Homo sapiens: one gene and its partner. The protein of the gene in region 1 interacts with the protein of each later gene in a biochemical or structural test. Each region holds a gene or a part of one and is shown on either strand. Other genes may lie near its edges.

Region 1 (7,026 bases):
CTACAAACTAGAAAAACATTAAAATAATGCTGTTTCAAAAGGCCCAGTTATTTAAGACTGTCATAAGCATCAACAGGTAAGTCTGTGCCAAAGGCTTACAATCTTGTTATGTATTATGCCACAGCATCATTTGTTTCTCCAGAACCAATTACTAGTAAGTCACAACCCCTTCCTTCCTTTCCTAACTTATTGACTCCAGACATCTAATGGACCATGTTACTCACCATGCTGTTTCATTCAACAAAATCCAGTTCCTCATACCCAGAATAGTACTCTGTCAAAAGTTAGTTTTGATATTAAAATTGTAATCAAAGTACTGTCATAAATTTAAGTTAGAAATTCTTTACCATTAGCCATAAGGAACTTGGGAATCAAGTCAACATTCCAGTCTCTTCCTCTCCCCATTGACTCGGGTGGTGATCCTGGTATTTTAAATCTTTTGTATAACTAAAAGCAAGGAAAAACATAGCCATAATGTTAACAAAATTTAATTTTTTATTACAATATGTACATATTTTTTATTAAGTGCTTTTAGTATAACTAAACACCACCATGCTAGTAAAGTATAAGGGCATTTCATCTTTTATCAGATAAAATTTTTAGCAAGGTCCAATATATATGTAAATTAATTACTAAACTCATAAATGTTAAAATTAACAAATATGGCAGAAGTAAGGTTTTTCACTAGCAGAAAAGAAAGAATATAAAACAAGGCCAGACGCAATGGCTCATGCCTGTAATCCCAGCACTTTGTAATCCATGAGGCGGGTGGATCCCTTGAGGTCAGGAGTTTGAGACCAGCCTGACCAACATAGTGAAACCCCGTCTCTACTAAAAATACAAAAATTGGCCAAGCATGGTGGCTCATGCCTGTAATCCCAAACACTTTGGGAGGCCGAGGCGGGTGGATCAGGAGGTCAGGAGTACAAGAAAAGCCAGGCCAAGATGGTGAAACCCCATCTCTACTGAAAATACAAAAATTAGCCAGGTATGGTGGCAGATGCCTGTAATCCCAGCTACTCGGGAGGCTGAGGCAGGAGAATCGTTTCAACATGCGAGGCAGAGGTTGCAGTGAGCCGAGATAGCGTGACTGCACTCCAGCCTAGTGACAGAGTGAGACTCCATCTCAAAAAAAAAAAAAAAAAAAAAAAAATTAGCGGGGTGTGGTGTGTGCCTGTAAGCCCAGCTACTCGAGAGGCTGAGGCAGGAGAATCACATGAATCTGGGAGGTGGAGAATCACATGAATCTGGGAGGTGGAGGTTGCAGTGAGCTGGGATGGCACCACTGTACTCCAGCCTGAGTGACAAAGCAAGACTCCATCTCAAGAAATAAATAAATAAAACAAGATTATTTGTCAATGACACTGTATAGTTCTCTATACGGACTGTATATGCAGAACTAGGGTGTCACTGACAAATAGCAATCATCTAAATTCATTCTCTCCCAAATAAAAAGCTATCAAAGGCTTAATTTTGCTTTTGTATTATGTAAGGAATTCAAAATAAACCTTAGATTCTTCCTAATCAGAAAAGATAATTAAAATTAGTTCTAGTTCATTTATAATTTTTGAGCTTTACTGAGGTATAACTGATACATAAAGAACTGCCTACTTCCTGCATACATTTTGGTGAGTCTAGACACAAGGTACACCCATAACATCACCATAAGGTACCAATCATATCCATCACCTCCAAAATTGTCCTTTTGTTCTTTTATGATGTTTTGTGGTAAGAATACTCAAATTAATTTATAATTCACATGAATTGAAATGAAGCTCAGATTTCAAAAAGCTTATAAAGTTAGAGAACAGTCACTTGAGCTCATGAATCCTACTGCTAAGGTGGAAAAGAATAAGCAAAATTAGTAAGTATTTATTCAATAAAAATTCTGGCTGGGTGCGGTGGCTCATGCCTGTAATTCCAGCACTTTGTGAGGCCAAGGCAGGCAGATCACCTGAGACCAGGAGATCGAGACCAGCCTGATCAACATGGTGAAACCCCACCTCTACCAGAAATACAAAAAATTAGCCAGACGTGATGATGTACGCCTGTAATTCCAGCTACTCGGGAGGCTGAGGCACGAGAATCGTTTGAGCCTAGGAGGTGGAGGTTGCACTGAGCTAAGATCGTGCCACTGCACTGCAGCCTGGGTGACAGAGAAAGACTCCATCTCAAAAAAAAAAAAAAGAAAAAATTCATGACTCCCTCAATACATCTGGGGAGAAAAAAAAGAAAAGAAATCTTACTCATTGTATTGAAGATCAGCTAAGAAATATACTAGGCCAGGCACAGAGGCTCACACCTGTAACCGCAGCACTTTGGAAGGCCAAGGCAGGCAGATCATTTGAGGAGTTCGAGACCAGCATGGCCAACAAGAAGAAATCCCCATCTCTACTAAAAATACAAAAAATTAGCCAGGCATGGTGGTCCACACCTGTAATCCCAGCTACTCAGAAGGCTGAGCATGAAAATCACTTGAACCCAAGAGATGGAGGTTGCAGTGAGCCGAGACTGCACCACTACACATCAGCTTGGACAACAGAGCAAGACTGTCTCAAAAAAATAAAAATAAAAATAAAATAAAACAAAATTAAGAAAAGAAAAAAATTGTGAGGAGATTTGTAGATTAAGAAAATAAAGAGGTGCCCAGGCATGGTGGCTCTCACCTATAATCCCAACACTTTGGGAAACCAAGGTAGGAGGATCACTTGAGGCCAGGAGTTTGAGACCAGCCTGGGCAACACAGAGAGACCCCATCTCTACAAAAAATAAAATAAGCCAGGCAGGTGGTATGCATCTTTAGCCCCGCTACTTAGGAGGCTGATACAGGAGGATCGTTTGAGCCCAGGAGTTCAAGGCTACAGCAAGCTACGATCGCACTGCTGCACTTCAGCCTGGGCAACAGGGCAAGGCCCTGTCTCTTAAAAACAAACAACAACAACAAAGAATAAAGCGCTCGGGCGTGGTGGCTCATGCCTGTAATCCCAGCAGTTTGGGAGGCCAAGGCAGACAGATCACATGAGGTCAGGGGTTCCAGACCAGCCTGGCCATCATGGTGGAACCCCGTCTCTACTAAAAATACAAAAATTAGCCAGGCATGGTGGTGCACGCCTTTAATCCCAGCTACTTGGGAGGCTGAGGCAGAAGAATCACCTGAACCCAGAAGGTGGAAGCCATAGGGAGGCGAGACTGTGCCACTGCACTCCAGCCTGGGCGGCAGAGCAAGATTCTGTCTCCAGAAAAATAAATAAGAGAATAAAGAGAAAATTATACCAAATACAAACAGCTACGTAAGAGATTACTGGGACCACTGGGAAATTTGAATATGGTTCTGGATATGATATAATGGTATTATGCTTATGCAGGAGAATGTTATTCTTAGCAGATGAATGCTGAAATATTTTGCTCAAGCCTCATGATGTCTTATCACTTTCAATGGATCAAAACCAGTAACAAAAAAAGAGACATGAAAAAAATACAGCAAACTTTAACTGCTGAACTCTGATGGAAGATTTTTTTATACATCGTATTATTCTTTAAACTTTTCAGTATTACTGAATATAGAAAAAAATCCTTTTTGGTAAGTATTGTCTAATAAGTCACTGATTAAAGTCATTGATGATATCTATCTCCCATAAGACACAGTACACATCATATCCATATACGTAGGTGTTCAACAAACCTCACGCAGAAAAACAATCAATATATTAAAACACACTGTGGAAATGCTATGTGTCCACGTTCAAAAAAAGTAGGAAACAAGGCAGTATAGCAAAAGGAACTAAGCTTTGTAGTCATGTAACTTGGGTTTACAACCCATCTCAGATTTTAACCCCACAGAGACTATGTTAAATGGAGATTAAAAAAAAAATCTTTGAGGGACTGAGAAAATAAATAAAGCCATGAGGAAAGCACTGGACTTGCGCTGGCACATCAGACGATCCTCTACCCTCCCTTCCTAGACTATTCTCTGTTAATGCTAAGAGATAACTGCTCCACATAGCAACAAAAGTCAAAATGTAAATTTCTATGAGCTTCAAACCAGAAGCTCCTGAAAAACAGTGCTCCAGATATTCCATTTAACAAAACAAAATTAAGACCATCTCTAAGGAATAAGGTAGAGATTCACAAGTGAAATACTCACAAAGTGTGAGAGGCGTATGAAATTTGACTAACACTTACATCTTCCAATGGTGTTATAGATGCACTCTCTCCTCCGTAGTAAGGGTTTCGATCCATATGAAGAACTTTCTTGCCATTCACTGACATTATACCTGACAGGATACATTCCTATAGAAAAAGCATAGTACCTTGAAAAGAAAGTTCTACAGCATATTTAAAACAGATCATTTTTTTCAAGCCTGCCATTACACATTCTCTTAGTAATTACACTTATATTCATGCAACATGACATAATTTATGAAGAAAGCCCTTAAGAAACCAGGGGTCCAGGTGTGGTCTGTGGGCTCCTATGCATCCCAAGATTAAAACTGTTTCATAATAACACTAAGACATTAGTCACCTTTTAATTTTTTTTTTTTATTTATTTTTTGAGATAGAGTTTCACTCTTCTTGCCCAGGCAGGAGTGCAATGGCGCAATCTCAGCTCATTGCAACCTCTACCTCCAAGGATTCAAGCAGTTCTCCTGCCTCAGCCTCTTGAGTAAGTGGGATTACAGGTGCCCGCCACCACACCCGGCTAATTTTTTGTATTTTTAGCAGAGACAGGGTTTCACCATGTTGGCCAGGCTGGTCTTGAACTCCTGACCTCAGGTGATCCTCCCGCCTCAGCCTCCCAAAGTGCTGGGATTACAGGCGTAAGCCATCGTGCCCAGCCTAGTCACCTTTTCAGTGTTGACACTTCCACTGATGATGTAAAATCAATGGTGGATAAAACAAATTAAGACAGGGCTCTAAACTATACTAGTCATCATTACAGTCTTCATCGCCAGGCATTCATTTAAGGATGTCCTTGATAGGGTGGGCACAGTGGCTCACGCCTGTAATCCCCAGCACTTTGGGAAGCCAGGGGAGGTGGATCACCTGAGGTCAGAAGAGCAAGACCAGCCTCACCAACATGGAGAAACCACATCTCTAGTAAAAATACAAAATTAGCCGGGCATGGTGGCACATGCCTGTAATCCTAGCTATTCAAGAGGCCAAGGCAGGTGAATTGCTTGAACCTGGGAGGCAGAGGTTGTGGTGAACCAAGATCACACCACTGCACTCCAGCCTGGGCAACAAGAGCTAAACTCCATCTCAAGAACAAAAAAAAGGATGTCCTTGATAAAAGCATTAAAAAGTAACTTTATTGGCCAGGCATGGTGGCTCACACCTGCAATCCCAGCACTTCGGGAGGCCGAGGTGGGTGTAATGCTTGAACCCAGGAATTTCAGACCAGCCTGGGCAATACGGTGAAACCCTGTCTCTACTAAATACACAAAAATTAGCAGGGCATGGTGGTGCATGCCTGTAATTCCAGCAACTCAGGAGGCTGAGGCAGAACTGCTTGAACCCAGGAGGCAGAGGCTGCTGTGAGCTGAGACCACGCCACTGCACTCCAGCCTGGGTGACAGAGCAAGACTGAGTAGCAAAAAGAATTAATAAAGTTATTTAATAAACATATACCCTTCAATAGTCATCTTTTAAACATTGTGTGTGAAAAAATGGGAAGAATACAGACAGCACTTCAGCTCAGGGAAAACCTGTGCCACTGATCTGTAAGCTGAACTAGCCGCTTTTTTTTATGAATAATCATTTTTATTTGAAAGAACTGACCAACAAACTATGATTATTCAGATTTAGGTATTTGACATTTTCTCAAAGAAAACCTAAAGGAAAATAACTGACACGTGCTGCCAATAAGTCAAATTTTAAATGAAAATTAGAATTACCGAAAACTTGGCCGGGCACAGCTGCTCACACCTGTAATCCAAGCACTTTGAGAGGCCGAGGCGGGTGGATCACAAGGTCAGGAGATTGAGACCATCCTGGCCAACATGGTGAAACCCCATCTCTACTAAAAATACAAAACTTAGCTGGGCATGGTGGCGCATGCCTGTAATCCCAGCTACTCGGGAGGCTGAGGCAGGAGAATCGCTTGAACCAGGGAGTTGGAGGCTGCAGTGAGCCGAGATCGCGCCACTGCACTCCAGCCTGGTGTCAGAGCAAGACTCCATCTCAAAAAAAAAAAAAGAATTATGGAAAACTTACAACTACCACCATGGGCACACGTCAGGTTCCCCAATACATGAAGAACTTTTCTAACATTATCAGTGACAATACTAACAAATATGATGTTTTGATAATGTAAAATGAAACATGTCAACATTAAGACCCACTTTACTCAGAGTAAACCTTGTTTTCCAAATAACGGGTGAATGAAATTACAAAATCACACAGGAGGAAAAAAGAGGAATTCAAAGTGCAAGCTAGATCAGTGGGTGTTAATATATCAGAATATAAAACATTCATTAATGTGGCTTCAGATTTCATACTGCTATCTCTTAAAAACTACCACTTGTGCTTTTGTGTAAACCAAAGAATATCTACAATAACCTGAAAGGCTATATTTAAATTACTCCTCCCTTTTCCAATTACATGTCTGTGTGAGACCTGTTTTCATATACTTCAGCCTAGACAATATATCGCAACAGAACTGAACACAGAAGCATGTATGTGAATTCAGTTTTATTAAGCCAGACATTAAAGGATTTGCAGAAAACGTGAAATATTGATAGTCTTCTCACAATTTTGTTTTAGAAAATATACTCAGGCAGATGGCTTAAGCCCAGGAGTTGGATGGAGACCAGTCTGGGCAACAGGGCAAAACCCTATCTCTGCAAAAAATACAAAAATTAGCTGGGTGTGGTGGTGAGCACCTGTAGTCCCTGCTACTCAAGAGGCTGAGAGGTGGGAGGATTACTTGAACCCATGAGGGCAAAGGTGCAGTGAGCCGTGATAAGGCCACTGCACTTCAGCCTGGGTGACAAAGTGAGATCCTATCTCAATAACAAAAAAAAAGTA
Region 2 (7,026 bases), on another chromosome or scaffold:
ATTAGCCAAGTGTGGGGTGCATGCCTATAGTCAGTCCCAGCTACCTGGGAGGACCACTTGAGGCCACGTCAAGGCTGCAGTGAGCTTTGATGCCACCACTGTACACCAGCCTGGGCAACAGAGCAGGCTGTTTAAAAAAAAAAAAAAAAAGGAAAAAAAACACAAAATTTTTCAAATCTTCAAATTTTCTAAATCAAACGCTATGCACTAGGTGTAACAGCTACCATCTCAAGATAATAGTATGTCATGACCAAACAACAAAAATATCAACAATGACAAAACGATTCAGCCAAAAGTTAACAGTGGTGATGGTAACTGTAATAGCTATAATTTAATAAACCTTTTACTGTGCCAGGCATTGTGGTAAAAACTTCAATCTGGATACAGTCTCTCTTAACCACAATAGTTTATTCTTTAGAATGACTTGGCCATAAATTGTTAGGTAAAATAGTATGTTAATAATAACTTTGAAATAAGCCTTGTTTTTCTTCATTTTAACAGTAACTTTTATTCCTGTTACAGGTTGTTTTAGACTAAAAACAACTAGTTGGCCATGCTAACCAATTTAGATGGATGTTAAATATGTAAGTAGAAACAGCACTTCACTTAAGAGTTAATAATTGCACTAAATTTCCTTTTTTTTGAGACGGAGTCTCGCCCTGTCGCCCAGGCTGGAGTGCAATGGCGCGATCTCGGCTCACTGCAACCTCCGCTTCCTGGGTTCAAATGTTTCTCCTGCCTCAGCATCCTGAGTAGCTGGGGTTATAGGCACCCACCACCACGCCTAGCTAATTCTGGTATTTTTACCATGTTGGCCAGGCTGGTCTCGAACTCCTGACCTCGTGATCTGCCAGTGTGCTGGCACCCTCCCAAAGTGCTGGGATTACAGGCATGAGCCACTGCGCCCGGCCTACACTAAATTTCTTAATTAATTTTGTGTATTATCAGGCCTTGATCATTTGTGACAAGAAAGGAGAGCAGCAGTGGTACAGATGACTGAAAACTATGGGTACTCCCTAAGTAGAGAAAAAGCAGAATACTCTTGATTGGACAGAGGGATCATACTTTCCTAAAGATGTCTGGCAGGTGGCTAACAGGAAGGCATTCTCCTATAAAGAGATACAGATAACATGTAATGTGAGCAGTACATAATACATGTAATTCTCAAACTAGGTTAGTTGCATGAACAATTTTTTTTTTAAGACGGAGTCTCGCTGAGACACCCAGGCTGGAGTGCAATGGCATGATCTCGGCTCATTGCAACAACCTCCTCCGCCTCCTGGGTTCAAGCGAATCTCCTGCCTCAGCCTCCCAAGTAGCTGGGACTACAGGCGCACGCCACCATGCCTGGCTAATTTTTGTATTTTTAGCAGAGACAGGGTTTCATCACATTGGCAAGCTGGTCTCGAACTCCTGACCTCGTGATCCGCCCGCCTCAGCCTCCCAAAGTGTTGGGATTACAGGTATGAGCTACCGCGCCCAGTCAACAATGTTTTTAAAAATCTGACAAACACCACACCTCAAAAAAACCCCCCAATTATTCCATGTATGGGTGAATCAATGTTAGTACCAATGTAAAATCAACTACTCAAACGTAACATGCCATTAGAATCATCTGGAAAACTTATTAAAACCTAGATTGTTGGTCCCACCCAAATGTTTTGATTCAACACGGGATTCTACATTTTAACAAGTTCCTAGTTAATGCAGCTACTTCTGGAAGTGGGAACGCTCTTTGAGGACCACTGTTCTAAGCTAATGTACAAAAATCACAGAACCAGCAAGAGGAATGTTATTTTCATGTACAGTTCCATCATCTAAACTTTAGAGTTTATAACACATTTTTTGATTAGTGCATACAAAATTGTAACTGTGGTATGAAGCACTTTTCTCAGAAGAGAAAAAAAGGATTGTCTGCTTGCTATTTCACTGCATATTCTAACCACTGAGGATTAATTTGTTTATAAATATCACATAAATGTCTTCTTAAAAATAAGTATTTTTTGAGAGTATTTACTGAAGAGCTACCAAGCCTAGAGATGCAGTACCAAGTAAAGAAGGAAGACAACTCTCTGAGCCTACTGCTCCCTGCTAATCTCTGGGCTAACTTTAGACCAACAATAGAAACATAAATGTCATGCAAACTTTAAACCCATACAAACAAGCTAGAATTCTCTAAATTGCTAAATCTACGGCACGCAATTTCATCAGAAGTGCTATAGGGGTAGGATGCATGAAGTATGGTGAGGCAACAGGGATTCTTTGTTTTGTTTTGTTTTTGAGACAGGGTTCTCACTGTCACCCAGGCTGGAGTGTGGTGGTGCAGTCTCGGCTCACTGTAACCTCCGCCTCTTCAGTTCAAGCAATTCTCCCATTTCAGCCTTCTCAGTAGCTGGGACTACAGGTGTGTGCCACCATGCCCGGTTAATTTTCGTATTTTTTGTAAAGACGGGGTTTTGCTATGTTGGCCAGGCTGGTCTCAAACTCCTGGACTCAAGCGATCTGCCCACCTCAGCTTCCCAAAGTGCTGGGATTACAGATGCAAGCCACCGCACACAGCGCAACAGGAATTCGTAAATCAAGTTATTGTATTTAGGAAGAACCACACAAATTACAGAAGAAATCTTGATATTCTTAATGAATCCAGAATCCACAAATCAAGAGTGTAACATATGATATCCACCTTCGAACACAATCAAATAGAGATTAAAATTTTGAGTGCTTCAGAACAATAACTCATGTTAGGAGATATAAACAGTAAAGTGAAAAATTAAACAGTTGAGGCCAGGCGTGGAGGTTCACGCCTATAATTCCAGCACTTTGGGAGGCCGAGGCAGGTGGATCACTTGAGGTCAGGAGTCTGAGACCAGCCTGGCCAAGATGGCAAAACCCTGTCTCTACTAAAAATACAAAAGTTCACTGGGATTGGTGGTGTGGGCCTGTAATCCCAGCTACTCAGGAGGCTGAGGCAGGAGAACTGCCTGAACCTGGGAAGTAGAGGTTGCAGTCAACCTAGATCACACCACTGCACTCCAACCTGGGCCACGTAGTGAAATTCCGTCTCAAAAAAAATAAACCAACAGTTGAAATGCAAAAGAGTTGGTTGGCTTCATTTTTCAGGTAACTTCTACCACATGACAGTCAAAACAAAAATACGTATTACCTACAAGTTATGGCCCTTTCAGGTTGATCATGAAATAGCTCAAACCTTAAAATTCTTAAATGCTTTACATCTACTCTAGTTCCTAAAGGTGAAGAGCTATGAGTACAGAGCATAAAAGAATAGTGTCCACAGCTATAACCATAATGGTACTGTCATACCTCCTGAATAGTATTCACATGGGGTCAGCACAGTGAAAAAGTATCCAATAAAGATTAACAGAAAGTTGGGCCAGGGGCAGTGGCTCATGCCTGTAATCCCAGCACTTGGAGAGCCCGAGGTAGGCAGATCACTTGAGGCCAGGAGTTCAAGACCAACCCGACCGACATGGTGAAACCCCATCTCTACTAAAAATACAAAAATTGGCCAGGAGTGGTGGCTTGCGCCTGTAGTCCCAGCTACTTGGGGGGCTGAGGCATGAGAATTGCTTGATCCTGGGAAGCGGAGGTTGCAGTGAGCCAGGGCTACACCACTGCACTCCAGCCTGGGCGACAGAGACCTTGTCTCCAAAAAAAAAAAAAAAAAGGATTAACAGAAATTTGGATGCAAATTCCTTTTTGTTTTTAAACAGGAAGCTCTACACATAGAAATGAAAATCTTTATGAAAAATTCATTAATGAAATCTAGACAATCTAACTGGTGTTACATGGAGATTATATAGAGATACACACATATCAGAGATATATTTATGATACACAGGATATGGGGTTACATTTTTCTTTTAAACATCCTTCTTGAGCTATCATTAGGAAAAAATAAACTTAGAAGTGCATTATCCAAAACAAGATAAAAATTCTAATCTTAAGCTCTTGCAAAGCTCCCCAGGAATTAAGTCCTATACTACAGTACTTCAGAGTTTTTATTGTTTTAATAAAATAATAAAGAGAGAGGAGAAGAGTAGCATATAGTAAGTCCCAAACCTACGTGGCCCAGGTTATTTAACCCAGAATGCACATATACTTTGGGAAATGCTTCCATTAACAGTGAAATAAGTGGGTGGACATGATCTAGCAGTCTTTAAACTTTTCCTACTAGATGGGACAGTTAGCTTTGACCAAATCACTTCTGGAGGAAGCAAAGCCTTCTTGAGAAGTAGTATTTCATTATTAAACTGGATATAATGTATTAACAATAACAACAACAACAACAAAATCACACGTGGATGTACTTTCAGGGAAAAAAAAAATCACAAAGATGTCTAATATATTGTGTATTAACATTTTTTAAAATGCCAAGACTTCTGACTCAAAATAAAAGCTCCATGATGCTTTCTGATGCTCAGCCATTAGAAAAAACATAAAACATTCTAATATAACATTTTAACAAGATATACAAAGGCCAGGAGGTAGTAGACTTCTGTAACTTATCTTACTAGAATGGGTCTAAGATTATGAATAACATTCTCAAGTATATTTGCAGAAGAGCATTCACTAAATGCACAGTATAAAGTTTTGCTTCTGAAAGACAGATTCCAAGAAGTTGCCACATGCCAGTTGGTATCTACCTGTCTTATTTCCAAAGTTTGACTTTAATTTTACAGGATGGGGTTAAAATATATACATGAATACCTTAGAAAACAGCATTGCTTAATTATATATCACTTGCAAAATATTGTGAATCTCAAACCGTGTGGCTCTTGCCACACATCATCTAATTGAAAAGCATCATTTCACAGATGAAACAGAGGCCCAAAAGAGGCTATCTTGTCCCACTGCTATATAATTATAGGTTTCTTTGATTAAAGTCAATTTTTTTTAAGAGATGGGTTCTCATTATGTTGCCCAGGCTAGACTTGAACTCCCAAGCTAAAATAATCCTGCCTCAGCCTCCAAATACCTGGGACTACAGGAATGCACCACCATGTCCAGCTAAAATTCAATTTTCCCATTTCACGTCCTCTCTTGACAATACTGTACTGTTTGTTGTCTCCTTTTCACCCTGCATCTTACCTTCCCCTCATCTCTGTCCCACCATAACCACCCTTGTCAGTGCCTACTCTTTCCCTTCTTCTTTCATCTTTTTCTTCAGGTTCCATTTTCCTGTTATGTCCCTTTCCATTAATCACTTTTTCTCTTCCCTCAGCTTAGGAGCATTCTTACATATGCATCTCAGCAGGGAGCACCTGTAATCACAGCTACCTGGGAGGTTGAGGCTGGAGGCTCACTTGAGGCCAGGAGTTCAAGACCAACCTGGAAACACAGCGAGACTCTGACTCTTAAAAAAAAAAAAAAAAAACTTGCCTGGCATGGTGGCATGCACCCTTAGGTCCAACTACTTGGTGGGAGGCTAAGGCAAGAAGATCATTTGAGCCTAGAGTTTCAGGCTGCAGTCTGCAGTGAGCTATGATCCGGACACTGCACTCCAGCCTAGGCGACAGCAAGATCCCATCTCTTAAATACCAAAAAAAAGTACATCTAGCAGTATTTAATTACATTTAATTTTACAAGTAAGTATAATTATTTGCAAATACTTCAGTTATATAGATCAGAATTTAAGGTTACCTTTTTTACTATTCATTTTAAACCAATATAATTGAGCACAAACATGTACTGTATTAATTTGAAGAAGCTTCTAGTTGTTAGCTAGAAATAGGTATCAGGTCAAATGTTATTACTTGAGACACTGATTCTACTCATGTTTTTTATCTGTATTTTAGCTACAATATAACCACAAGGGATTAACCAAACAATCAAATATAAAAACACATCATTTTAACAAAGATAAAGGCAAGTTTTAAAGCTAAGGTAAGCTGAACAGCTCTTTTCTTCACTCTATGACTTATTTAGCTATTCATAATCACACAATTGGAACATCAAAATATTTTCTGTCAATGTATGATTCGATTAAATGAAGCAGGGAAAAAAGAAAATCTCACCCCCAATGGTACTCTCTTGAAATTCATGAAATTGGCCTTTCACAAAACGAAGCACTAGGCTTGATTTGCCAACAGCGGACTCTCCCAGAAGTACTAGTTTGAACTGGCATATTTTATTTCCCGTATTTGGCCCGTTGGGTCTTGTTGCGCCTCGACTAGCCATGTCCAAATTTGAAATAAGTCCCTAATTTCAGACTCTTCAATGAACTTCCAGAATTCAAGGGGCCAATATTCTTCTTTCTGGAGGTAAAGAAACCTGTAAAGAAACAATTATGAATTAAATATACAAATCAGTAAAGCAAATTTACTATTAATCACTTTAAATATTGCCTATAGCATGATTATCTTAAACTCTACTAGACCTTCAATGCCCTTTAGATTATGTCACTATCTTTTAAAGGAAATTCAAAGGTATAGGATGTGAGTCCAAAATTACTTTTTTTTTTAAAGGCTAACCTCAAAGCTTCAAGTTTGTGCCAGGCAGTGCTTTAAGTACTTAACTTCTCAACAATCCTATAAAATGAGATATTATTACAATCCTTATAAATGAGGAAACAAGCACAGAGATGTTAAGAAGCTTAATTGAGGTCACACAGTTATTGTCACAGAAGTGACAGAGCCGAGTTTCAAACCCAGGCAACCTGAGAGATGACTCGAGTTCAAGTTCTGTAGCCAGGCTACTTGGATTAACATTGTTTTGAGAAAAATTATGTTATTAATAAATGGGAAACTTTTAGAACAGATCCTAAAATTTAGTATTATTTGAAGTTTTCTGTTAAACGATGCATTTTTCATTTAATTAATGGTAATTTTGGACAACAAATATTTTCAGTCTCCCAGGTTTGTGTGCCTAACGGCAGACTTAAAACTGTTTCCTCATCTGCTCAAGCACACCATACACAGAAATGCTAACAGTTGTTCTCCATGTGGTGATTATTACTGACTTATTTACTTACAATAATTGTAACTTTTTTGTAGTCTTTAGACGAAC

The links.
Region 2: the proteins of GDI2 (region 1) and RAB5A form a complex in vitro, tested with the Homo sapiens proteins (one study listed by BioGRID).

The regions. Positions count from the first base shown.
Region 1 is NC_000010.11:5,796,416-5,803,441, forward strand, and holds part of GDI2 (rab GDP dissociation inhibitor beta), read right to left. Parts: exon of another isoform or gene 6,676-7,026; intron 4,291-6,675; coding exon 4,183-4,290; intron 448-4,182; coding exon 348-447; intron 1-347. UniProt on the Homo sapiens protein: GDP-dissociation inhibitor preventing the GDP to GTP exchange of most Rab proteins. By keeping these small GTPases in their inactive GDP-bound form regulates intracellular membrane trafficking.
Region 2 is NC_000003.12:19,950,071-19,957,096, reverse strand, and holds part of RAB5A (ras-related protein Rab-5A), read right to left. Parts: intron 6,292-7,026; 5' UTR 6,199-6,291; coding exon 6,036-6,198; intron 1-6,035. UniProt on the Homo sapiens protein: The small GTPases Rab are key regulators of intracellular membrane trafficking, from the formation of transport vesicles to their fusion with membranes.